Regions from separate parts of the Homo sapiens genome. Here all the other regions are linked to region 1. The links come from fine-mapping of genetic effects on gene expression. A gene starts in region 1. Each other region holds a variant in brackets. All regions are shown on one strand. Distances are from middle to middle. Region 1 holds the start of NBL1 (NBL1, DAN family BMP antagonist). Region 2 overlaps HTR6 (5-hydroxytryptamine receptor 6). Region 3 has its middle 34 kb from the start of MICOS10-DT. Region 4 overlaps MICOS10-DT (MICOS10 divergent transcript). Region 5 has its middle 19 kb from the start of MICOS10-DT.

Region 1 (5,000 bases):
CTCACCCAGGTCAGGCCCCGGCTCTGGTCAGCCCAACCGGGTTTCCTGGGCTCACTCTGGGGTTTGAGGATGAGTTCTGGCCAAAGCTCATACATTGGCTTTCTGTGTGCCTGGAGTCAGGAGAGTCTAATGGTTATAGCTCGAGCCACTGACCATTTGCTTCCCCCCTCAGCTTCACGTTTGCATCTGTAAAATGGGCAGCCTGGCCTGGGAACGTCCATTTCAGCAGATCCCCCAGGGAGGAGCCTGGCTCCAGCATACTGCTTAAGGCCGCTGTGATTCCACGACCCCAGTCTCACGGCAGGGTGGCTTTTCCTTCCTTCCTTCAGCACTGGGGAGAGCATGAGTCAACTGTCCAGAGGGCGGACACACAGGGCCGACCCCGTGCCACCCAGGCCTGCCTGCATCTTCCAGCCCTGACCACCTCTGTGCCAGCCCCCAAACCCAGGCCACGGCCCTCCTTACCGCAGACCCTCCTGCCCGCAAACGAAAAACAGTCTCCAAAACAAATCCATGCTAATGAGCTGCTGCAGGGCCAGGCTGCACATCTGCTCAGCAGAAGTTCCACTGCAGACCTCACCAACAACCCTGCCCGCTCCGGCAGCCTCCGACCCTTGAGGTTGTGGGTGGGGGGAAGCAGCTAAACTCAGCCTGAAATTTCACTTTAAAATAATGAGGCGATATCCCTGGCCGATGCAGAACACCTACTCCCCTGTCCACCCCTCCAAAACACAGGCCCGGGAGAGAGGTCCAGCTTGCAGGGGTGGGTGGAGAGGGGTAGGGGTCACCGAGGAAACGCTGCAGCCTCGCCTTTTCTTTGGCCCCAACTCAAGGCAAACCACGCCCAAGCAGCCCCAGCATCTGGGGGAGTCTAGGGAGGCCCCATTCCGCAGTAACAAAGGGTGAGGGGCTCCTTGTTGACAAATTGCTTCCCCGCCAGCGCCCGGTCTTTGGCCTCCAGCCCTGACCTCTGTTTTCCTGGGGTGCCCCTAGTTACAGGCTGGTGGCGTCCAGCTTGGGGAGCGAGGGCCTCCGAAAGCCTGGAAGTGTGGCTTTCTCCCTTGATGCCCGCCAACCTCCGGCCACGCCAAGGCAGGCGGCTGCCCCCTTTGCCGCCGCTTGTAAACGATCAGAATCGCCCCGCCCTGGGAGCGGGCCGGGCAGGTGGCCCGCAGCAGGGCCTGTCGTCCAGCCGGCCTCGCGGGGGTGGAATTCTTAAGAAAACTGAGCCCCCGGAAAGGCTGGCTCTCCCTGCCCCAGACTCAATTCCAGGGAGATGACCCGGGCCAGGCCTCGGGGCCGGCGGGAGGCAGGGGGAGGGTTTGCCGCACCCGGTCTAGGAAACTATTCGTGAACCCCGCTGGGGGAAGGCGAGCCTCCGACACTGGGGGATTGTCTGGATCGGAGGGCGGGGGATCAGGGAGAGGCGCAGACACAGGGCGAGACCCCCACAGAGGGCAGCGCAGAGACAGAGAGAGGGAGAGAAAAGCCAGAGGCAGAGACACAAACGCGGGCAGCCGAACACGGAGGCAGGCGGGGAACGGAAAGAGACGGGCAGACCAGGGGAAAGTGAGCGGCGGAAACGGAGCGACGGAGAGACAGACACACGGACGTGGGGACCGAAGCAGAGGGGGCCGCGGGAGGCGGAAACGTCCAGAGCCGAGAGGCGCGGCGCGGCGAGGCCCGGGCACGGCCGGGGGACATGCGAGCCCGGCCCGCCCGGCCACGCATCTCCCTCCCTCGCTCCCTCTCTCCCCCGGCCGCGGAAACTCCGATCCAGAAACGGAACCCTGGGGCGAGTCTGGGGACGGGCTCCGGACGCGGCGGTGCCCCCCGGCCACCCCGTGCCGCGCCCACGTCCCCAGCGCCGGCGTCCGGAGGCGCCCGCCAGGTCCCCCAGGGCTCCTGAGCTCGGCGGCGGCGCCTCCACCCGGTGCCCGCGGCCGCCGGACGCGCCGGGGGACGCAGCTCCGGGCTGGGGGCGCGGCACTGCCCCCGCGGCCGAAGCCTCTGGAAGCCGGGCGCCCGCGTGCCGACCCGGGCGGGACTTACCGCGCGCGCCCGCCGGTCCTGCGGAGCTGGGTGCGGGGGTCGCGGGCCCGGGCGCCCCAGGAGGCTCGGCGAGGCGGCCGGCAGGGCGGGGGGCGGCCCCGCGACGCTCGGCTGGGCTGCGCTGCGCGCTGTCTGCGGCCCCGGGCGGGCGCGCGGCGCGGGGGAGCGGCTCCGACGTCAGGGTGGCTCCCTCCAAACAGGGCGCGAGGGCGGGGGCAGCGGGGAGGGCCGCGCGCAGAAAGAGCGGGCGGGCGCGCGCGGCCTCTCCCTCCGGGTGCGCAGGAGGGGGCGCCGCGGCGGCAGGGGCCCCGGGCCCTCTCCTGGCCCGCCCGCCCCGGGCTGAGCTTCGGCGCGCTCCGACGGCGTGGTGGGGCGGCCGGGACGCCTGGCCGGCGCCCGAGAGGCAGGGCAGCCCAGCCGGGCGCCCTGGCCCGTTCTTAAGCGCCCTCCCCGGGTTTCTCTGCGCTTCCACTCTCTCCGCCCGACTTTTACCGAGCCTGGGCCGTCAGGCCGTGCCAGGCCTCGGGGTGACAAAGATGGATGTGTCCTTTTTGTGGGCACCGGGCATTGCAGACTTGCCCCGAGAGTGGGGCGCCCCAGCCCGCCGCGTCCCGGCACCAGGAGTCCCCAGTTCTGCGGTGCACCTCATCCCGTCCGCTCCGGCATGCGACCCGGTTCAAGTCCGTGCTGTTGGTAGCCTGGGTTGCTCAGCCTTGCCTAGTGTTATCCTAGTGTCGCTCTCGGCCCCACGCCCTTGGCTTAAGCATCCCGAAAAGCCCCAGGGACTTATTAGGAACTAAAAAGCCAGCAAATGAACTCACTTCTCTGACTCCTGGGAAGAGTGGAGCTCCTGGCCCCAGCTTCCAGCCTCACCTCGGGGGTTCCTATCTAATCAGTGGGCACTTGGGTGGATTGCGGCCGTACCTTCTCTATTCTGTGTGCTTAACAACGGGGTGAGAAAATAACTTTGCTTCTGGAAAGTGGTGGCCCAGGGACACCACTGGGACACGATTGTAGGACTTGGGGATTTTGCTTTACAGCATAGTTACCTGTGTCCATGTGTTTTACCTAGCTTGGCTGGAAACTTCCAGATAGACACAGCCCTGCTTGTCTGACTCATGAGGTTGCCGGGCATCCTGGGTGGCTCCTAGTGGCCTGCTGGGAACTCCCTGGTGTACTCCAGCCTACTCGCACCCTCCACACCCAGCCTGCATCTGCGCCTCCTAGCTGTTGCCTGCGCCCTTCCCTCTGCCCGGAATTCCCTTCCCCTCCTTTCATCTCTGGCAAACATTCTTCCAGCTCCAGATTGGAAAGCCTTCCCAAGACCCTTTGGGAGCATCTCCCTCCTCCAGTGTGATCCTGGAGCACAGGATGAGAACTTCTGTTCATGTCAATTTCCCTCTAGAATAACTGTGTACATCTCTTGGGCAAACATTCTTCCAGCTCCAGATTGGAAAGCCTTCCCAAGACCCTCTGGGAGCATCTCCCTCCTCCAGTGTGATCCTGGAGCACAGGATGAGAACTTCTGTTCATGTCAATTTCCCTCTAGAATAGCTGTGTACATCTCTTTCCTCCATTAGACCTTGAGGGCAGGAATCGTGTTTATTTCAGTGTCTCCATTGCTTATGGGCAGGCCAGGTGAGATGTACAATGTATTTGGTTGAATGAAGTTGTTGTTGTTGTTGTTGTTGTTGTTATTATTATTATTATTAGAGACAGAATTTTGCTCTTGTTGCCCTGGCTGAAATGCAATGGCGTGATCTCGGCTCACTGCAACCTCTGCCTCCCAGGTTCCAGCAATTCTCAGCCTCCCGAGTAGCTGGGATTACAGACGCCCACCACCACGCCCAGCTAGTTTTTGTATTTTTAGTAGAGATGGGGTTTTGCCATGTTGCCCAGGCTGGTCTCCAACTCCTGGCCTCAAGTGATCCTCCCGCCTCAGCCTCCCAAAGTGTTGGGATTATAGGCATGAACCACCACGCCCAGCGAATAAAGTAATTATTATCCCCCATTAATGTAGCACAGATAGGTCTTCCCTTAATGGTAACTATGACCGTTATAATAGTTCACACATATTGAGCACCTTACCATGTGCCTCATCCCATTGCAAGCTGTTGCCACTCTCACAATAAACCTATGAGGTAAGTATTGTCTCTGTTTTAAAAGTGCCAGGCGCAGTGGCTCATGCTTGTAATCCCAGCACTTTGGGAGGCCAAGGCAGGAGGATCACTTGAGGTCAGGAGTTCGAGACCAGCCTGGCCAATATGGCGAAACCCTCTCTCTACTAAAAATACAAAAATCAGCCAGGTGTGGTGGCGTGTGCCTGTAGTCCCAGCTACTCGGGAGGCTGAGGCAGGAGAATCACTTGAACCTGAGAGGCGGAGGTTGCAGTGAGCCGAGATCGCACCACTGCACTCCAGCCTGGGAGGCAGAGTGAGACTCCATCTCAAATAAATAAATAAATAAACAAACAAACAAATAAAATAATAAAAGTGAAAAAAATCCCGAGGCTGGAGGATCACTTGATCCCAGGAGTTTGAGGCTGCAGTGAGCTATGATTGTGCCACTGTACTCCAGCCTGGACAACATTGCAGAAGGCTAATTGTGGAACCTAATGAGCTTGTCACTCCAGCAAGGCCTTGTCTCAAAAAAAAAAAAAAAAAGTGAAAAAAGGAACGTCAAGAGAAAGGTTAAGTAACTCGCCTAAAGTCACACAGTAAGAGCCCATGCCAGCTAGTGTCTGTTGGATAACTATATACCATGTACGGCAGAAACCAGCCTCACTGCACTGTACACAGTAGACACTCAGGAAATATTTACCATTTTGCAGCCAAAGCTTACCCCCGCCATCTTTCATGCAGACCCCGAGCAGGGTAGAAAGTAGAGTTCTACATTTTGTAAGAATCCACTCCCACATTGCAGAAAGCTAATTGTGGAGCCTGATGAGC
Region 2 (5,127 bases), 36 kb before region 1:
TGCATTCAGTATGGCTGTGAACTAGGCCTGGGGACAAGAATGAATTTTACATGGAAAGAATTTCCTGTAGCAGGAACAGAGGGGATAACAACAGCAATAAATAATAATAAGAAGAAGCTACCACTTCTTGAGCATGTACCACATACCAAGTGGTTGCCTGGGTTGTGTCAGTTGGAATTCACAGCAATCCTATGAGGTAGGGACTATTATTATCTTCATTTTATATTTGGGGAAACTGAGGCTCAGAGGGATCAGGTAACCTGCTGAAGGCCAAACAGCTGGTTAACGATGGAGCCAAGTTCCAGGCCCCTGTATGTCAGACTCTAATGCCCAAGTCCCAAGCCACTGGGTCTGCATCCGTGAGAGCTTTCCTCTTTGTTCCTCCCACAGTCCCTGAATGGCAGGGCCAGAGATAATGCACCCTTGTTGTGCAGATGGAGAAATCAAGGCCCAGGCAGAGGAAGGATTGACAAGCTCTGGGGGAGGTGGGAGGAGGGCAGCAAAAATTAGAGTCGTAGAACATAGGAGCCAGATCCCTGCTCAGGTGCGTGTGTATTCATTTGTTCATTCGACACACATTTATGGCTCACGCCTGTAATCTCAGCACTTTGGGAGGCCAAAGTGGGAGGATTGCTTGAGGCCAGGAGTTGGAGATCAGCCTGGGCAACATAGCGAGACCCAGTCTTGACAAAAAATTAAAATAAAAAAATTAGCCACTGCCAACTACTCAGGAGACTGAGGCAGGAGGATTACCTGAGCCCAGGAGCTCGAGGCTGCAGTGAGCTATGATTGTGCTGCAGCACTCCAGCCTGGGTGACAGAGTGAGACTCTGACTCTTTTTTTTTTTTTTTTTTGAGACGGAGTCTTGTCTTGTCACCAGGCTAGAGTGCAATGGCATGATCTCAGCTCACTGCAACCTCCACCTGCCAGGTTCAAGGGATTCTCCTGCCTCAGCCTCCTGAGTAGCTGGGATTAAGGCACTTGCCACCACGCCTAGCTAATTTTTTGTATTTTTAGTAGAGATGGGGTTTCACCATATTGGCCATACTGGTCTCCAACTCCTGACCTCAGATGATCCACCCACCTCAGCCTTCCAAAGTGCTGGGATTACAGGCATGAGCCACCATGCCCAGCCAACTCCAACTCTTAAAACACAAAATTTAAAAACAAGTATTTATGCAACTCTTGTTGCTTTTAAACTAAGCTGCTCATGTCATACATGGGAAATGGAGGCTCTGAAAGGGGAAAGGATTTTTCTGGGGTCCCAGATTGAAGGGGCAGAATCTGGACCAGAACCCAGGACACCTACACCCAGGCCTCCCCACGACACCAGCTGCTTCTCAAGCCCCGAGTGGCCCCTCAGTTGAATCCAGTCCACACCACAGCCACTGCCTTCAGCTAGAGTTTATTGAGAGTCCCCTTGGGCAGACCTGGGGGATAGGGGAAGCCCCGCAAGCACCATGGCCCCTCAGAGGCCAGCCGCCGGGGCCAGAGTTGTGTCTCATCAGCACCAAGGAGAGGGCCAGGCCAGGCATGGAGGACCCCCTGGGAGTTTGTGTTGATGGAACTTGGGGGAGGCAGGGCTGAAAAGGGACCTATGGCAGGTAAACTGGCGACCAAGAGTTCCCCAACCCCCTGCCCCCAGAAACCAAGGCCCCTGTGCCAGAGTCCACCTGCCTGCCTCGTGGGCCCCACCTCACACCAGGAACAGCTCTTTGACTCTACTCTGCTGACCCAAGTAGCTACCATTCCCATTTCTCTCACTGACCCCAGGGAAGGCCAGAGGCAGGTGGGCAAGGGGCTGGGTTTATCCCCATCAGTTGTTCCCTTCTAGGTCCAAGGACCCCCCAGGATTGAGGAAAACCAGTTCTGAGGCTGAAAAAGAAACTGCCACCTGCCCCTTTTGCCCCCAGGAAAGGCAGGGCAGCAGCTTGGGAGCTGGGAGGGTCCCTGAGAGATGGGGTCCCCACCCAGGAGCCAGAACAGGGAGTTGGGGAACCAGAGTCAGGCTTTGGGAGGCTAGGCCAGGGCTGAAGAGGGGGAGGCAAATGGAAAGAGAACAACGGGAGCAAAGAGCCCTTCCTGACACACAGCCGGAGAGGCCAGGGGGCTGGATAGCCGGGGGTCGTAACAACAGAACGTACCAATTAACTGACCGTGTACTGGGTGCTGGGCACACATTGTCTTAATTCTCAAGACAACCTGCAAGATAGGCATCATTTCTCTACCTTACACATGGGATAACCGAGGCTCGGAGAGGTTAA[A/G]TAACTCGTGTCAGGCCCCAGAGCTCATAGGTGGTAGAGCAGAGGCCCACATGCATGCCTGCCTGCCTCCCAGGTGCAGCTGCTGCCACATATATACCAGGGAGGGGAGACTGACAGGTCCAAAAACCATCCAGCAAATCATTCTGAGGGTTAAAGATGATCTAAGGCAGCACATCTCAAACTGTAATGGGCACATGATTCACCTGGGATCTTGGTAACATGCAGTTCTGACTCAGCAGGTCTGGGCAGGGGCAGAGATGTGCATTTTTCACAAACTCCCAAAGGTGACGGCAATGCCGATTGTCCATGGACTACACTGTGAGTAGCAAGGGGTTCAGCCCAGCATTAATCCATGCCTGCAGGTGGGGGCATTCCCTCCCGTCCAGCCTGACAGAATGGGCAAAGGTCATGATTGTTTTCATCCTAACCTGAACCAAGAGGTCCTTCTCCCCAACATCCAGAGTCCTCCAGCCCATCCTCTGCACACACAAGTTACACTCAACAGTGGAGCATCCTTCAGAACACGATATCTGAGTCAGCTATGATCCCTGCAGGTAAGGGGCCTGGAGATGGCAGCAGGGGGTCAGCTCTGCGCACCCCTCTGGAGCTCAGAGGGCTTCTAGGAGACTTGCAGCCTCCTGGTCTTAGCCAAGAGCTGGCCCAAGGACTCAGGGTCTGGGTTCTGCTCAATCCAGCTCCCCATTGGCCAGCCCCAAGCCCGGGTCAGTTCGTGGGGATGCCAAGTGGATGCGGCCGCAGCTCGGGCTCCGCGGGGTCGATGTTGAAGAAATTGACGGCGGCAGCGGCCCTGGTGGGCAGCGGGGGGTCCTGGGTGGCCTCGCCAGGAAGCAGCAGCTGGGCCGTGAGCCGCAGGCCCGAGGAGCCGCCTGAGCCTGCGTCTGAGTCCGAATCTGAGTCCGGCGGCAGGGGCAGCGGCAGCACCTGCTGTAGGCTAAGGCCGGGCCGGGGGCCGCTGTGAGAGGTGCGCAGTGATGGCGAGGCCAGGCTGGCCTGGCGCTCCCGGGGACAGCGTGGACATGGCAGGAACCTGCCCAGCGCCCGCTTGAAGTCCCGCATGAAGAGTGGGTAGATGATGGGGTTCATGGTGCTGTTACAGTAACCCAGCCATGTGAGGACATCGAAGAGGCCTGGGGAGATGCAGTCGCACACGGCCTGGGGGGAGGGGATGCATCATGCCTGGTCCCAGGGCAGGGACCCAGGCCACCCTTCCCAGCATGTATGGAGCAGACACACACACACACGCACCACGAGAGGCAGCCTACCCTCCCCTGTCCCCATGCCTGGGCTGGGATCCAGGGCCTCTCCTGCAAGGGCCGGACTCACCTGCCCCCTGCCGTGGCATTACCTGGACTATGTTGGCCACAAAGAAGGGCAACCAGGTCACAAAGAACATGCCCAGCAGGATGCCCAGCGTCAGGCTGGCCTTCAGGGCCTTCCTGCTGTGCTTCGTGGCTAGACGCCTGCTGTCAGCAGACTCCACCCCTGGGCGTGGGGTCCTGGGCACCTGCGGAAAGGAAGGCCACATGAGTCCGTTGAGAAAGGGCCCCCGTCTGACCCTGATCCTAGCCACAGACTGAGCTTCAATCCTAATTCTAGACTGAGCCCTAGTGCCAGGATTAAACTGGGCCCTGTTCCTTGACTGAGTCCCAACTAGAGTCCTAGACTGAGCCCTGACCCTGACTCCAGGCCAAGCCCTGACATCAGCAATAAACCAAGCCCTGACCTTGGCCCCCCACTGAACCCTGACACCTACCATAAAGCCCTACATAACCAAGTTCTCAAACCAAGCCTCAACTGTGGACCTAGACTGAGCTCTGATCCTGGTCCCACACTGAGCCCTGACCCTGACCCAGAATTTCATAAGGAGCTCTAGGAAGTGCAGTGAGACAGAGCAATACCTGAAACACAAATCAGATGGTTCAGAAGAACAACCATCCCTGCAAAGACAATACGTGACACAGGCCAACACACACATTACAATGAGCCCAGCACCTTCCAAAGCCTTTAGCGCTACAGAAATCAATTGCAATTGACTGGGCACAGTGGCTCACGCCTGTAATCCCAGCACTTTGGGAGGCCGAGGCAGGCAGATCACTTGAGGTCAGGAGTTTGAGACCAGCCTGGCCAACAGGGTGAAACCTTGCCTCTACTAAAAATACAAAAATTAGCCAGGCGTGGTGGCAGGCACCTGTAATCCCAGCTACTCAGGAGACTGAGGCAGGAGAATTGCTTGAACCCAGGAGGTGGAGGTTGCAGTGTGCCAAGCTCACATCACTGCACTCCAAGCCTGGGTGACAGAGCGAGACTCTGTCACACACACAGACACACACAAAATCAATTGCAATTGAACAGTACTTGAAAAAGAGGACCTGTTACTGTCCAGAGCTTGGCAATTGCTTTGTATGTGGATTGTCTTCACATTTGGGAGCAATAGTCTTGCCTGGGCAATTACTCTTGAGCCCCACAAAATAGAAAGGCTTTTTTGAGAATGTGTGCACAGAGCCAATGTTTGCAGCTAAATCTCTTAATAGGCTCCTAAGGATGCTGGTTACCTTGGCATTTTATAGCTCAATTATACTGCGAACTGGCAGGCATCTCCATTCTCAAAAGTGGACAGGAAGAGGAGGAAGGGGTAGGAGGGAGGAAGAGAAAGAAGCTACTTCCCAGCAGCCACTGAAAGGAAGGCATGGGCCCGGGGAGGTTAGAATTTGACTTTGCAAACTGGCCCCCACAGTCCCAAAGGGCTCTCTGAGCTGGATCATTCTTTAGCTCAGCAGTGCTCTTCACTTGTTAAACTTCATGAGCCTTTTGAAAATCTAATGAAATCTCACACACACACACA
Region 3 (5,127 bases), 81 kb after region 1:
AAGCTGTGCTACCCTGAGGAACTCACTGCATCTCTCTGAGCTTCCGGGTCCCAGTCTGTAACAAGGAAGTTACAGAAGCTAACCCGCAAAGTTGTGAGGATTAAGAGAGCTAGTTAGAGGCCAGGTGAGGTGGCTCATGCCTGTAATCCCAGCACTTTGGGAGGCCGAGGTGGGCAGATCATGAGGTCAGGAGTTCGAGACCAGCCTGACCAACATGGTGAAACCCCATCTCTACTAAAAATACAAAAATTAGCCAGGTGTGGTGGCGCATGCCTGTAATCCCAGGTACTCAGGAGGCTGAGGCAGGAGAATCGCTTGAATCCAGGAGGCAGAGTTTGCAGTGAGCTGAGATTGCGCCACTGCACTCCAGCCTGGGCGACAGAGCAAGACTCCATCTCGAAAAAAAAAAAAAGAGAGACAGTTACTTGGGGCCAGGCATGGTGGCTCATGCCTGTAATTCCAGCACTTTGGGAGGCCGAGGTGAGTGGGCAAATCACTTGAGCTCAGGAATTGGAGACCAGCCTCGGCAATATGATGAAACCCCATCTCTACAAAAAATACAAAAAAATTAGCCAGGCACAGTGGCACATGCCTGTAGTCTCAGCTACACGGGAGGCTGAGGTGGGAGGATTGCTTGAGCCTGGGAGGCAGAGACTGCAGTGAGCTGTGATTGCGCTACTGCACTTCAGCCTGGGTGACAGAGCAAGATCCCATTTCAAAAAAAAAAAAGAAAAAAGAAAAAAAGAGCTAGTTGGTCAAGGGCGTGGCGCTTTGCAGGTGTTTAATAAATGCCAGTTCCTGGTCCCCTTCTGATCCGGAATAAGTAACTTCCTCCTGTTGGCATGGAGTCCCTGGACTCCAGTAAAAGAGCCAAGTTTGTGTCCCTCCCCCTCGTCATGTTCTCAGAAAGGCTCAGAATAGAACCCAAATCTCCTGGCTCCACTTGGAGCTGTAGCCAACAGACCACACGACCACTTTTTTCCTGTCCACTACTTTCTTTTGAGGTGGAAAGTAGTCAGTTGGAATAACTTACCCAGGGGCAGGGAAAGGAAAAAACAGCAAAAATTGTTTTAAAAGGGAGTTATACAAGCATTTGCAGGAAAACCCCATTGAGGGGCATTAATGCTGATTCAAAGGAGGAGGAAATATGAAATCTGACAGTTTTCCAGGCCTCTGGTCCTGAATTTCCTCTCTTCCATCACACGTTTTTCTCACCCACAAAATGGGCCTTAAAAAAAGGATGACAGGTTAGAAAATAGACCATGTCAAAAAAAGTGGGGAGTCTTGAGGTTGTTGTTCCGCAAGAGCATAAATGCTGCTCCCCATTATGACCGGCCAGTTCCCTAAGTAATAATGGGGAAAGGCAGGCTCAGGCAGAAGCTGATGTCTCCCCGGGGAAGGAGAATGAATTCTGGATTACGAATGGAGACCATTTTCCAGGGCTGCTTTGATCTCTTGCCAGATCCAGGGCTGGAGACCAGCAAGTTGGGACTCCAAGGAAAACCGGACTTCGCAGCAGTCTCTAGCAGCTGTCTTCCCAAACGGGTGTGTGCCTGCAAAGCCGGGGCGGCCCTACGGTCCAGCCCAGCTTCTGCCCAGCGCCTGTGCCCTTGCGCTTCTGCCCCTGGGAGTCCTGCCTCCCGCTTTTCCTCCCCACCCAAAACAGAGCTGAGTTGGCGGCCGAAAATGAGTAAGTGTGAAGTGAGACTGCACACTAGTCTTTGTTGAGGGTTTGTTTTTGCCAAGCAGCTTGGTGGAGAAGATTGCATTGCTTGGTTATTTTTAAACCTGGATTTCTGGAATTTTATTTGGAAAAAAACAAAACAGAAACTCAAGTCTTGAGAGGCTAGTGGCTCCAGGCATCCTCTCTAGGAGGCTTGATATTGCCTAGAGCTGCCAGGAGCCTGGGGGAGTTTTGGGCCGTCAGAGGATGGAGGAGCAGAGGGTTTCCAGTCAGTTCTGGAAAGCAGCCCTGCTCCCCATCCCCAGGGGAGAGAACACCACACCTATATGAGGCCTCACTTCTGGTGTTTCTACTTGCTGTGTGCCAGGCTGGGTGGCAATCAAGACAGTTTCGGTCCTTGGTTGTGTGTGGCTCATGGCTTAGATGAAGATGATTTTCTTTTTTTATTTTTTAGAGGTGGGGTCTCACTATCCTGCCCAGACTGGTCTCAAACTCCTGGCCTCAAACCATCCTCCTACCTCGGCCTCCCAAAGTGCTGGGATTACAGGCATGAGCCAGTAGTTCACCTGGCCTAGATGAAGAAATTGATAGTTGCAATATATTTACAATACCAGCTTCACAGGGGAAGACACAAAGGTTGGGGTTGGGGCTGCTAACCTAGCCTAGAAGGATCCAGAATGAAACCCAAAGAATGTGTAGGGTCAGCAAAGCACAGCCAGAGAGGACTGTGGGTAGGAGAGGGGTGGGGCGGGGGTGGCAGCAAGAAAGCAGGGGCTTGATAGCAGAGACTTGGCTTCTAGCTCCTGCTCCATCTCCAGCAAGCAGTGCCATTTAAGCAAATGTGCTTGTCTCCTCTGCACTTCATTCTGTTCATCTATAAAACAAGGGATGTTATTAATCCGTTACTTACAAAAGCTAACATTTACTGAGTCCATACTTGGTGCCAGACCCTATTCTAAGCACCTTATATATATTAAGTCCAGGGGTAATTTTCAAAAACAA[T/C]AAAATTATGACTTTCATACAGATATTAAATGAACCCATATCAAAGATTTTGTGGAACACATTAAGTAATGAGGGAATTGATAAGATGTTACGACTAGTTCAAAATATCTCACAGTTATAGTCGCGTAAGGAACAGGGAAGTGAACTTACAGATTAGGTACGAAACTGGCAAAGTTGGTTGATATCCACAAGGCAATAATTAATTTCATTCTACCGGACACAAGTTGCATTTCTATGGACAAGAACCAGGCCGGGCACAGTGACTCATGCCTGTAATCCCAGCACTATGGGAGGCCGAGGCAGCAGATCACTTGAGGTCAGGAGTTCGAGACTAGCCTGACCAACATGATGAAACCCTGTCTCTACTAAAAACACAAAAATTAGCTGGGTGTGGTGGTGCATGCCTGTAATCCCAGCTACTCGGGAGGTTGAGGCAGCAGAATCGCTTGAACCCGGGTGGTGGAGGTTGCGGTGAGCCAAGATCGCACCATTACACTCCAGCCTGGGCAACAAGAGTGAAACTCCCATCTCAAAAAAAAAAAAAAAAAAAAAAAAGAACAATTTGTTTTACTGACAGCTTTCTACAAGATACAGAGCTATAAAGTAGCTCAAAGACAATGAAGGGCCAAAAATAATCCTATGGGTTGAGCTAGTCAGGACACCCACTGAATGTCGAGGTTTTTCTAATTTGTCCCTATGATCTCCCCAACCCCTTAGGATCATTATAATCTTAAAGAAAAATGACTCTTGATTTAAAAATTGACTGTTCTCATTAGATGTGGTCTGATTGTTTATGTAGGTACAGCAAGAGAGTTAATTTGTCAGCTAGACATGGTGGCTCATGCCTGTAACCTCAGCACTTTTGGGAGGCCGAGGTGGATGGATCACTTGAGCCCAGGAGGTCCAGACTAGCTTGGGCAACATCGTGAAACCCCTTCTCTACAAAAAATACAAAAAATTAGCTGGGCATGGTGGCACACACCTGTAGTCTCAGCTACTAAGGAGGCTAAGGTGGGAGGATTACCTGAGCCTAGGAGGTTGAGGCTGCAGTGAGCCATGATTGCGCCACTGCACTCCAGCCTGGGCGACAGAATGACACATTGTCTCAAAGAAAAAAAAATATTAATTTGTCGTATAGGCCTCCTAAATGTGCTTCACAAAATTTACAGCCATGTCGTTTCAAACAATTACAAAATTAGCTTTTGTCTAGAAGTTTTCATAAGGAATCTCCAATTGGAATCTTTATTCTTTTCCCAGCTGGAATCGTAAAAGGCTCTATTATTTGTTATTTCAAAGTTAAGACACCCAGCTCAAGACGCTTCCCACAAAATTTCTTTCACCTGTCAAACCTGTATATCTGAGTGAATTCTTCTCTTTTTTTGTTCTCTGAATATCATAAAGTTCCTGGCCTTCCAGGAAGTGACTGTCTTTAATATCTGTAAATCAGGTACCAAGTCACTTTTGTTTTTTTTGTTTGTTCTTTTTTTTTTTTTTTTTTTTTTTTTGAGACTGAGTTTCGCTGTTGTTGCCCGGGCTGGAGTGCAATGGCACGATCTTGGCTCACCACAACCTCCGCCTCCCAGATTCAAGCAGTTATCCTGCCTCGGCCTCCAGAGTAGCTGAGATTACAGGCATGCGCCACCATGCCCGGCTAATTTTTTTTTTTGTATTTTTAGTAGAGATGGTGTTTCTCCATGTTGGTCAGGCTGGTCTCGAACTCCTGACCTCAGGTGATTCATCCGCCTCAGCCTTCCAAACTGCTGGGATTACAGGCGTGAGCCACCGCGCCCGGCCCTTTTTTTTTTTTTTTTTTAAGACAGAGTCTGGTTCTATCATACAGGCTGGAGTGCAGTGGTGCGACCTCAGCTCCTGCAACTTTCGCCTCCCCGGTTCAGGCTATTCTCCTGCCTCAGCCTGCCCAGTAGCTGGGACTACAGATTACCGCCACCACAGCTGGCTAATTTTTATATTTTTAGTAGAAATGAGGTTTCACCATGTTGGCCATACTGTTCTCAAACTCCTGACCTCAGGTGATCTGCCTGCCTTGGCCTCCCAAAGTGGTGGGATTACAGGTGTGAGCCACCGCACCTGGCCCCAAGCCAGTTTTCATGGAGACCTTTGTAGGCGTGTGTTCCGTAAGTATTAACACAAATTTTATCCCTTAAAATGCCCTGTCACACCTGATTTAGTGAGCACCATTCTCAGATATGATGCTCCAAGTGAGGCCTTGGCTACAATTAATCCATTTGTCCTGGTAAGAAGGAGGACATAGTCCTGCTGAACATGTGCAAATAACTATTACCATGAAAAGTAAAAAGACTTTTTTTTTTTTTTTAGGTGGAGTTTCGCTCTTGTTGCCCAGGCTGGAGTGCAATCGCGCAATCTCGGCTCACCGCAACCTCCACCTCCCGGGTTCAAGAGAGTCTCCTGCCTCAGCCTCC
Region 4 (5,127 bases), 54 kb after region 1:
GTGCAGTGACACTATCATAGATCACTGCAGCCTCGAACTCCTGGGCTCAAGCAATCCTCCCACCTCAGCCTCCCAAGTAGTTAGGACAACAAGCACATACCACCTGGCCTGCTATTTTATTTTATCATTATCATTATTATTATTATTATTTGAGACAGAGTCTGTCTCTGTCACCCAGGCTGGAATGCAGTGACGTAATCTCGCTCACTGCAAGTTCTACCTCCCAGGCTCAAGTGATCCTCCTAGCTCAGCCTCCCAAGTAGCTGGGACTACAGGTGCACACCATCACATCTGGCTGATTTTTGTATGTTTTGTAGAGATGGGGTTTCACCATATTGCCCAGGCTGGTCTCGAACTCCTGAGCTCAAGCAGTCTTCTCACCTTGGCCTTCCAAACTGCTGAGGTTATAGGTGTGAGCCACTGCGCCCAGCCCAAACTGATTTAGTAACTACAAACTGCCTAAAATAGTGCTTGGCTCCTAATTGGAATTCTGTAATTCATTATTATTATAGCACTGCTCTTAATTGTCTGGAACAGGTTTCACAAAGATAGAAGTTTACATTTCAAATGAATAAAGACAGACTCCTGTAAGAGGAAGAGAGCCAACATCTTTTTACACTGTATTGAAGAAAAATAAAAAACCAAAGTCTGTCACTTGAATAGGCTAGACTTTAGCCTCAACTGGTTAATCAACTAAACATAAACTCTTTGTTTGGTTTACTAGGTTGTAAATTCAGCTTCCTTAACGTCGCAGATTAGAATGTTCTACACCACAGCACCTGCATAAATAAAGGTCTTTTAGATGCCAGTGATTTTCTTCATGGTTTCTCTTCAATTAAAAACTAATGTCTTAGGCTGGGTGCAGTGGCTCACACCTGTAATCTGAGCGCTTTGGGAGGCCAAGGTGGGAGGATCGGTTGAGCCCAGGAGTTCAACACCGACCTGGGCAACATAGGGAGACTCTGTCTCTACAAATAATAAAAACATATAGCTGAGTGTGGTAGTGCACACCTAGAGTCCCAGCTAGTTGGGAGGCTGAGGCAGGAGGATCACTTGAGCCCAGGAGGTCTGGGTTGTAGTGAGCTGTGATCATGCCACAGCATTCCAGCCTGGGTGACAGAGCAAGACCCTGTCAAAAAAAAAAAAAAAAAAAGAGAAAAGAAAAGGAAAAAAAAACCTCTAATTCCTTTCTTAAAGAAGAGTCACATTTTTTTGTTGTATTTCATATCTTCTTTTTCCAAGAGGGGTCCTATATCATTTTGTCCCTTCAGGAATGTGTTCAGAGTCAAAATCTACTACATAGCTGCTTTGTTTGGTTCCAAAGCCCAGGGACCCCCTCCCCTTTTTAATGTATGTGTATGTATGAAATATTCCAAGCATTCGGAAAAGTGCTAAGAACATGGCCAGGTGCGGTGGCTCACGCCTGTAATCCCAACACTTTGGGAGGCCAAAGTTGGAAGATCTCTTGAGTCCAGGAGTTTGAGACCAGCCTGAGCAACATAGTGAGACCTTGTCTCTACAAAAAAATCAAAAAAAGAGGCGGGAGGATAGCTTGGAGAAGGGAGGATAGCTTGAACCGGAGGTTGAGGCTGCAATAAGCCGTGATCACATCACATCACAGCACTCCTGCCTGGGTGACAGAATGAGACCCTGCCTCAAAAAATAATAATAATAAATACATTAATTAATTAAAAATTAGTCAGGTGTGGTGACGAGTTGCTGTAGTCTCAGCTACTTGGGAGGCTGAGTCCAGAGGATTGCTTGAGTAAAAGAGTTCAAGGTTGCAATGAGTTATGATCACGCCACTGCACTTCAGCCTGAGCAACAGAGCTTGACCCCATCTCAAAAGAAAACATAAATACAGCTTAACAAATTGTTGTAAAATGAACATGACTAGCACCCCAGAAGACCCTTCTCTGCATTTCCTTCAGCAGATCCAAACTGCTCCCTCCTTGCCAAGGCAGGATAGCATAACCACTATCTCGACTTTTTTTTTTTCCCCAGACAGAGTATCACTCTGTTGCCCAGGTTGGAATGCAGTGGTGCAATCAAGGCTCACTGCAGCCTCGAAGCCTCCTGCCTCCAACTCCCAAGTAGCTGGGGCTACAGGCACGTGCCAGCATGCCTGGCTAATTTTTTGCTTTTTACTTTTTGTAGAGACAGGGACTTGCTGTATTGCCCAGGCTGGTCATGAATTCCCGGGCTCAAGTGATCCTCCCATTTCAACCTCCCAAAGTGCTGGGATTATAGAAGTAATCCACAGCACCTGGTATATCTTGACTTCTATGTTATTCATTTCCTTGTTTTTCTTTAAGTGTTGCTACCTGGTTATATATCCTTAAACAATATAGTTTAATTTTGCCTAATTTTGAACTTTGCTTAACTGGAATCATACAGTCTGTATGTTATGGTATTCAGCTTCTTTTCCTCATTAGTATCCATGCTTCTGTATGTAACTATAGTTCGTTCTTTTTCGTTGCTATATCATATTCCATTATATGCTGTCCACAATGTATTTAGTCTATTGTCCATGGATATTTGGGTTGTTTCCAGCTTGAGGCTTCTTTTTTTTTTTTTTTTTTTT[G/TG]AGACTGAGTCTCCTTCTGTTGCCCAGGCTGGAGTGCAGTGGCGTGACCTCGGCTCACTACAACCTCCGCCTCCCAGGTTCAAGTGATTCTCCTGCCTCAGCCTCCTGAATAGCTGGGACTACAGGTGCCCACCACCACACCCAGCTAATTTTTGTATTTTTAGTAGAGACACCGTTCAGCTATGTTGGCCAGGCTGGTCTCAAACTCCTGACCTCAAGTGATCTGCCCGCCTCGGCCTCCCAAAGTGCTGGAATTACAGACATGAGCCACTGTGCCTGGTCTCAGCTTGAGACTGTTGCCAACAAGTCTTCTCATTCTTCTATGAATATCCTGATATACACTGGCATTTATATACATATAGGCAGGATCTCATTCTGTTACCCATGCTGCAGTGCAGTGGCATAGTAGGCTTACTGCAGCTTCAACCCCTCAGGCTCAGGCAATCCTCCTGCCTCAGCCTCCCAAGTAGCTGGAACCACAGGTGGTGCATGCCACCATCCCTGGCTAATTTTTATATTTTTTTTGTGTGGAGACATGGTTTTGCTATGTTGCCCAGGCTGGTCTCGAATTCCTGGGCTCAAGGGATCCACCATTCTCAGCCTCCCAAAATGCTGGGATTACAGGTGTGAGCCACCACGCCCGGCTCAATGGGCATATATTTTTATAGAATATGTAAGTCAGGAGGGCGATAGGGTATGTATACCTTCAGCTTCACTTGATACTGCCAAACTTTATCCCAAAGTGATTGTACCAATTTACATTGTCCCCAGCAGCATATGACCATTCCTGTTACTCCATGTCCTCACCAACAGTTAGGCTGTAATGATACTTTAGTATTGTTGCCAGTCTGGTAGGTGTCTGCTAGTATCTCATTGGGGTAGTGCTTGCTCTTTCCTGTGAGTGAGCTACTAGTCATGTACTCTGAATATATAATGTAGCAGGACTGGGGGATTCCAATCAAATCAAAGAGGCCCTGAAAGAGAAGGGAAATTGACAGAGACATTTTGCTAAAGTGATGCCTTGCCAACTTGAAGAAGGTGTGCTGGGTTCAATAGTGTCCCCCCAAATTGATGTCCTTCCTAGAACCTCACAGTGTGGCCTCATTTGGAAATAGGGTTGTTGAAAATGTAATTAGTTGGCTGGGTGCGATGGCTCATGCCTGTAATCCCAGCACTTTGAGAGGCCGAGGCGGGCAGATCACCTGAGGTCAGGAGTTCGAGACCAGCCTGGCCAACATGATGAAACTCCTCTCTACTAAAAATAGAAAAATTAGCTTGGCATGGTGGCTTAGCTTGGCATGGTGGCAGGCGCCTGTAATCCCAGCTACTAGGGAGGCTGAGACAGAAGAATCACATGAACCCAGGAGGCAGAGGTTGTAGTGAGCCGAAATTGCACCACTGCACTCCATCCTGGATGACAAAAGCAAAACTCTGTGTCAAAAAAAAAAAAGTAATTAGTTAAAATTAGGCCAGGTGCTGTGGCTCACACCTATAATCCCAGCACTTTGGAAGGCCGAAGTGGGAGGATCACTTGAGTCCAGGAGTTTGAGACCAGCCTGGGCAATATAGTGAGACCTTGTTTGTACAAAAAATGTTAAAAATTAGCCAGGCGTGGTGGTGCATGCCTATAGTCCCAGCTTCTTGGGAAGCTGAGGTGGGAGGATCACTGGAGCCCAGGAGGCAAGGGCTGCAGTGAGCTAAGATCACACCACTACTACTGCACTCCAGCCTGGCGATAGTGAGACCCTGTCTCAAAAAAAAAAAAAAAAAAAAAAAGATTAGCTCATACTGGAGTGAGATGCACACTAAACCAAAAAGACTGGTGTCCCCATAAGAAAAGAAGAAGAAACACAAAAACAGAGAAGATGACCCTGTGACAACACAGGCAGATAATTTGGCTTATGTGGATATAAGCCAAGGAAGACCACGGATCGCCAGCAAGCACCAGGCGCCAGAAGAAAGGCATGGAACGGATGCTCTCTCTGAGTCCCCTGAAAGGAATCAGTCCTGCTGACGCCTTGACTTTGGCCTTCCAGTCTTTGGAACTGAGAAACACTATAATTCTGTTGTTTCAAAGCCACCAGTTTGTGGTCCTTTGTTATGACATCGTGAGAGAACTAACACAGCAGGGAGCACACTGGATTGAAGATCATGAGAGCTGCACCCCAGTCTCCACTCTGCCGTTAACTGCTGGTTCTGCACATGTAGTCATGCCTGTCTTACCAGGTGGGCCTTTCTGTGGACTCACCTCTTTAGATTCGTTCTTTCTTTTTTTTTTTTTAAGTCAGAGTCTCACTCTGTTGCTCAGGCTGGAGTGCAGTGGCATGATCTTGGCTCTCTGCAACCTCCGCTTTCCAAGCTCAAGCAATTCTCCCACCTCAGCCTCCTGAGTAGCTGGGATTACAGGCATAAGCCACCATCACACCTGATTTTTTTGTGTGTGTGTGGAGACCGTATTTTGTCATGTTGCCCAGGCTGGGCTCAAGTGATCCCCTGCCTCAGCCTTCCAAAGTGCTGGGATTATAGGCATGAGCCACCAAGCC
Region 5 (5,127 bases), 66 kb after region 1:
TGCGCCATTGCACTCCAGCCTGAGAAACAAGAGCAAAACTCTGTCTCAAAAAAAAAAAAAAAAACGGAAGAAGAAGAAGAAGAAGAGCTGTGGCCACCACAGTCAAGTGCCTCCTCTGCTGAGATGGAAGGCTGCCTCAGTCTTTCCCAGGGTGGGCGCCAGACCCAGCTTGACCCCATCATAAGCTGCAACAGGAAGTGCATAACGCTCCGGGGATTAGATTGCAAAGGCTACAGGTCTTCCCACTGTTTCTGAGCCCAGATTAAATTCTCAGCCAGGGCTGAGGGAGCTGTTATCCCCAGTGCAGCCCAAAGAGGCCAGAGAACACAACTTAGAAGTGCAGAGATAAACTTCTAACATTGAAAGACAGGAGAGGAGGAGTCAACAGATGAATTCCATTTTCTTCTGCAGGCCAGAAACCAACTTTCTCCTTCCCAAGATGCAGCAGCATGGAGGTGTTATGGTTCCACTCGCCTCTCTAGAGATGTTCCTGTGTGACGAAGTGACTAGCTGTGTTTTCTTGTGAATGTTTGGCTCGCTCAACAATGCACCTTACTTTCCCTCACTCCCTGCCTTCTTTCCTTTTCTCTCCTTCTTCTCCAATAGAGCAAGAGTGTGTAAGCTTTGCCTCAGGCTCTGATGTCTAAGGAACCCAGGCTAAGCCAACATTCAGGTGGAAATGCAGAGTAAATAGGGAGGTCAAATGGAAGTTAAAAGCATTGCTAAAACCACCTAACATTTAGAGGCTAGGGAGATCAGGGTAAATCAGCAAAGAAAAATGAGAAGGAAGGAACATGGACGGGAGGAAAACCAAGAAAAAATGGTCTCCTGGAAGCCAAATGAAGTGTTTCAAGAAAGACAACATGATTAACTGGGCCAAATGAAAGAGGGTGGAGAAGTGGCCATTGGTCTTAACATCAGAAAGGTAATTTTAGAGACATTGACAAGGACGGTCTCCATGGAGTAGTTGGAGCCAAAGTCCAAATGCAGTGTGTTTGAGAGAGACTAGGAGGAGAGGGGCTGGAGGCAGCAAGTGCACACAATCTTTTCTAGAAGTTTATTTCCAAAGAGGGACGAAAAAGGGCAATAGTTTGAGAAGGGGTGGGTTTGACAGTGGGTTTTTTTAGAATGGGAGAACTTGCTCATGTTTGTATGTGGATGGGAATGATTCAGTAAAGAGGGTAAAACTGATGATGCAAGAAGAGAGAGGAGGGCCAGGCACTGTGGCTCATGCCTGTAATCCCAGCACCTTGGGAGGCCGAGGTGGGTGGATCACTTGAGGTCAGGAGTTCGAGACCAGCCTGGCCAACATGGTGACACCCCGTCTCTACTAATAATACAAAAATGAGCTGAGCGTGGTGGCAAGTGCCTGTAATCCCAGCTACTTGGGAGGCTGAGGCAGGAGAATCACTTGAACCCAGAAGGCAGAGGCTGCAGTGAGCTGAGATCGCACCACTGCACTCCAGCCTGGGCGATAGAGGAAGACTCTGTCTCAAAAAAACAAACAAACAAACAAAAAAAGGATAAAAGAGGCCGGGCCTGGTGGCTCACGCCTGTAATCCCAGCACTTTGGGAGGCCAAGGTGGGTGGATCATGAGGTCAAGAGTTTGAGACCAGCCTGGCCAACATGGTGAAACCCCATCTCTACTAAAAATACAAAAATTAGCCGGGCATGGTGGTGCATGCTTGTAGTCCCAGCTACTTGGGAGGCTGAGGAAGGAGAATGGCTTGAACCTGGGAGGTGGAGGTTGCAGTGAGCCGAGATCGTGCCACTGCACTCCAGCCTGGGCGACAGAGTGAGACTCCATCTCAAAAAATAAATAAATAAAATAAAAGAGAAAAGAAATGCCGAGACTTTCTATTCCAGAGGGCTAGAAGTAGAAGGTTTATTTCTAAGAAAAGGGAGAATGCTAGACATCTGGAATTTCCTCTCCATGGATGCCTGGGTCTCTGGGGCCCAACTTTTAAAGTTGAACACTTATTTTTTGATGTGGTTAGAATCCCTGAGCCCAAAATATGTTCCCAAGAGTATTTAATTAAATGGGAATCTGGTGTGCATCTGTGACTAATTAATGCTGATCAAAAACAATTAAATATTAAATGTCAGTGGTTTCTTACCTGGTTTCTTACCAATAATTGCAAAGGGCTGAATGCAATTATCAAGTCCTGACCTCCATAAGAGCCAAGTTCACATTAAAATAATGAACGACTGAAACAGAGCCAATGAAAGAGCAGATTTTGTGAATGTTTTAAAAATTGAAGCAATGAAATGCTAATCATCAGGGCAAAGGTATTAGTCAGAGTTCTCTTCCTCAGCCTATGGATGTAGAAGGGTCCTCTCTCCAAGAGAAAGAACGGAAGCCCCGCTTAGCAATGTAGCAAACATTTCTAACAGTTCTCCTTATAGTAAAATGTTTTCATGTGCTGATAACTGTTATAGGATATAAATATATATAATGATGTAATTCACTCAACAAGTATTTGATGAGGACTTGATTTGGCCAGGTTCTATGCTAAGCTCTGGGAATAAAGAAACACTGAAGAACTCTCTATCTTCAAGGTCTAGTCTAAATAC[C/T]CTAACACCCACCATTATCAGAACCACCTGGTGTGTGTTGCCCTTTCCCTCTCTGGTTCAATTAGTATGATTAGGGGCTGCTGTTGTCTCCTGGTTTCCTAAATAATATACATATTTTTAAATTTATTGTACTGCTTATTTTGGAGTGATTTTAAAAGATGGTAGCAGAAATGCCTTTATTGTGCCATCTTGAAGCTGGCAGGCCCCCACGCCCCTCGTGGTCCTGGTGAAAGGTGAGACACATCAAGTGGATCCCACAGATGAACTGCTTCTTCCCTTTGGGAGCAATGTGGGGGATTGAAGAACAAAGACCAAAGGCAGTGGCGTGGATCCATATGGTTGTTGAGAGCCAGAAGAATGAGTCAAGCCCAGCAGATCATCCAGCAAAGACATGGGTGGAGGATAGAAACCGTAATGTAAAGCCAAAACAAAGTCAGCTGAGAACCAAGAAATTTATGAACAAGGAGTAGCAGAGTGGAAAAACGAGGTAGTCTGGGAGGATTCCAGAGACAAACTGGGGATGTTGTGGCAACTTTATTTTTTTATTTTTTTGAAATGAAATCTCACTCTGTCACCCAGACTGGAGTGCAGTGGTGCAATCTCGGCTCACTGCAATCTCTGCCTCCCGGGTTCAAGCAATTCTCCTGCCTCAGTTTCCCGAGTAGCTGGGGCTACATGCGCGCGCTACCACGCCCGACTATTTTTTTTTATTTTTTGTATTTTTAGTAGAGATGGGGTTTTGCCATGTTGACCAGGCTGGTCTTGAACTCCTGGCCTCAGGTGATCCTCCTGACTCGGCCTCCCAAAGTGCTGGGATTACAGGCATGAGCCACAGTTCTGGGTCTCTTGTGGCAACTTTAAATCTCACCCCTGCGCTGACTTGAATATGCTGCTCAGGTCATTTCAGGGGATTGTGGTGGTCGAACGGCCTGATGCTATATCCTCCACTGGCCATTTCTAAAGTGAGGAGTAAGCCCCCTTCAGGAAAGCCTGAGTTCAGAGCCTTTGTAAACTGTAAAGCTATAGGAAGTACTCATTTGATGTTCTTGCGATGGTGCTTGGTACTTCAAATTCTTTATCTGTAAAGAGAAGACAACTTCAATTCTCTCCACCTATTTTACAGCTGCATAGGGATGCTGTGTGGATTAATGAGACCTTCAGCCTGACTTTCCCCCTTGGCTGTGCAGGATGCTCCTAAAAGGGACTGTTTATCCTGAGGTTCAGACACATCTGTCTTTAGCTTAAAGCTGAATGCAAGAAGCTTAAATGCTTATTACTAAATGAAAGAAGCCAATCTGCAAAAGTTGCATAGTATATGATTTCAACTATATGATATCCTGGAAAAGGCAAAAAAACTACAGAGGCAGGCTGGGCACAGTGGCTCATGCCTATAATTCCAGCACTTTGGGAGGCTGAAGTGGGTGGATCACCTGAGATCAGGAGTCCAAGACCAGCCTGGCCAACATGGCGAAATCCCATCTCTACTAAAAAATACAACATTTAGCCAGGCATGGTGGCAGGCGCCTGTAATCCCAGTGACTCAGGAGACTGAGGCAGGAAGAATTGCTTGAACACTGGAGGTGGAGATTGCAGTGAGCCGAGATCGTGCCACTGTACTCCAGCCTGGGCAACAGAGTGAGACTCTGTCTCAAAAACAAAACAAAAACAAAAACAAAAAAACGACAGAGGCAGTAAAAATATCAGTGGTGTCCAGATGTTGCGGGGAGGGAGGGAAGAATCGGCAGAGCACAGAGGATTTTAGGACAGTGAAAATGGTCTGTATGATACTTTTATGGTGGATACATTTCATTATACTTTTTTTTTTTTTTTTAGACAGAGTCTCACTCTGTTGCCGAGGCTGGAGTGCAGTGGTGCCATCTCGGCTCACTGCAACCTCTGTCTCCTGGGTTTGAGTGATTCTCCTGCCTTAGCCTCCCAAGCAGCTGGGATTACAGGCACGCACCACCACACCCGGCTAATTTTTGTAGTTTTTAGTAGAGATGGATTTTGCCATGTTGCCCAGGCTGGTCTCGAACTCCTGGGCTCAAGTGATCCACCGACCTTGGCCTCCCAAACTGCTGGGATTACAGGTGTGAGCCACTGCATCTGGCCGTCATTATACAGTTGTCCAAACCCACAGAATGTACAACATCTAGAGTTAATCCAAATGTGACCTATGGACTTTGGGTGATAATGATGTGTCAACGTGGATTCATCAATTGTAGCATATGTACTGCTCTGGTGGCGGATATTGATAATGGGGAGCACTGTGTATGAGTTGGGGAAGGGGGTATATGGGAAATCTCAGTTTCTTCTGTTTTTTTTGGTTTGTTTTTTAAAATTATTTTTTAAAATTTTGAGACAGGGTCTCACTCTGTAGCCCAGGCTGTAGTTCAATGGCACAATCTTGGGATCTTGGCTCACTGCAGCCTCAACCAGGATCCTGGGTTCAAGTGATCCTCCTGCCTCAGTCTCCCGTGTAGCTGGGACTACAGGCATGTGCCACCACAGCTGGATAACTTTTTGATTTTTTGTAGAGACTGGGTCTCACT

Evidence for each region.
Region 2: its variant is fine-mapped to the expression of NBL1 in gastroesophageal junction (GTEx, PIP 0.96).
Region 3: its variant is fine-mapped to the expression of NBL1 in whole blood (INTERVAL, PIP above 0.99).
Region 4: its variant is fine-mapped to the expression of NBL1 in whole blood (TwinsUK, PIP 0.95). The same link has a PIP of 0.9 or more in CD4 T cells.
Region 5: its variant is fine-mapped to the expression of NBL1 in whole blood (TOPMed, PIP above 0.99).

The regions. Positions count from the first base shown.
Region 1 is chr1:19,641,499-19,646,498 of GRCh38, reverse strand. NBL1 (NBL1, DAN family BMP antagonist) reads right to left here and starts at 2,188. Exons shown (of 4, transcript NM_005380.8): 1 at 2,053-2,188. All of the region lies in intron 1 of MICOS10-NBL1 (MICOS10-NBL1 readthrough), which reads right to left. RefSeq lists a silencer at 2,103-2,442 and an enhancer at 2,341-3,176.
Region 2 is chr1:19,677,229-19,682,355 of GRCh38, reverse strand. It overlaps HTR6 (5-hydroxytryptamine receptor 6), which reads right to left. Exons shown (of 3, transcript NM_000871.3): 2 at 3,631-3,789; 3 at 1,390-3,437. The coding sequence ends at 2,988. It overlaps TMCO4 (transmembrane and coiled-coil domains 4), which reads left to right. Exons shown (of 16, transcript NM_181719.7): 16 at 1-116. Among named protein-coding and RNA genes, the nearest start is that of HTR6, 15 kb to the right of the region's middle. The variant A/G (reference allele first, on the strand shown) is at 2,265.
Region 3 is chr1:19,560,338-19,565,464 of GRCh38, reverse strand. No RefSeq gene overlaps it. Among named protein-coding and RNA genes, the nearest start is that of MICOS10-DT, 34 kb to the left of the region's middle. The variant T/C (reference allele first, on the strand shown) is at 2,687.
Region 4 is chr1:19,587,483-19,592,609 of GRCh38, reverse strand. MICOS10-DT (MICOS10 divergent transcript) reads left to right here. Exons shown (of 2, transcript NR_135054.1): 2 at 725-808. Among named protein-coding and RNA genes, the nearest start is that of MICOS10-DT, 6.8 kb to the left of the region's middle. The variant G/TG (reference allele first, on the strand shown) is at 2,585.
Region 5 is chr1:19,575,031-19,580,157 of GRCh38, reverse strand. No RefSeq gene overlaps it. Among named protein-coding and RNA genes, the nearest start is that of MICOS10-DT, 19 kb to the left of the region's middle. The variant C/T (reference allele first, on the strand shown) is at 2,576.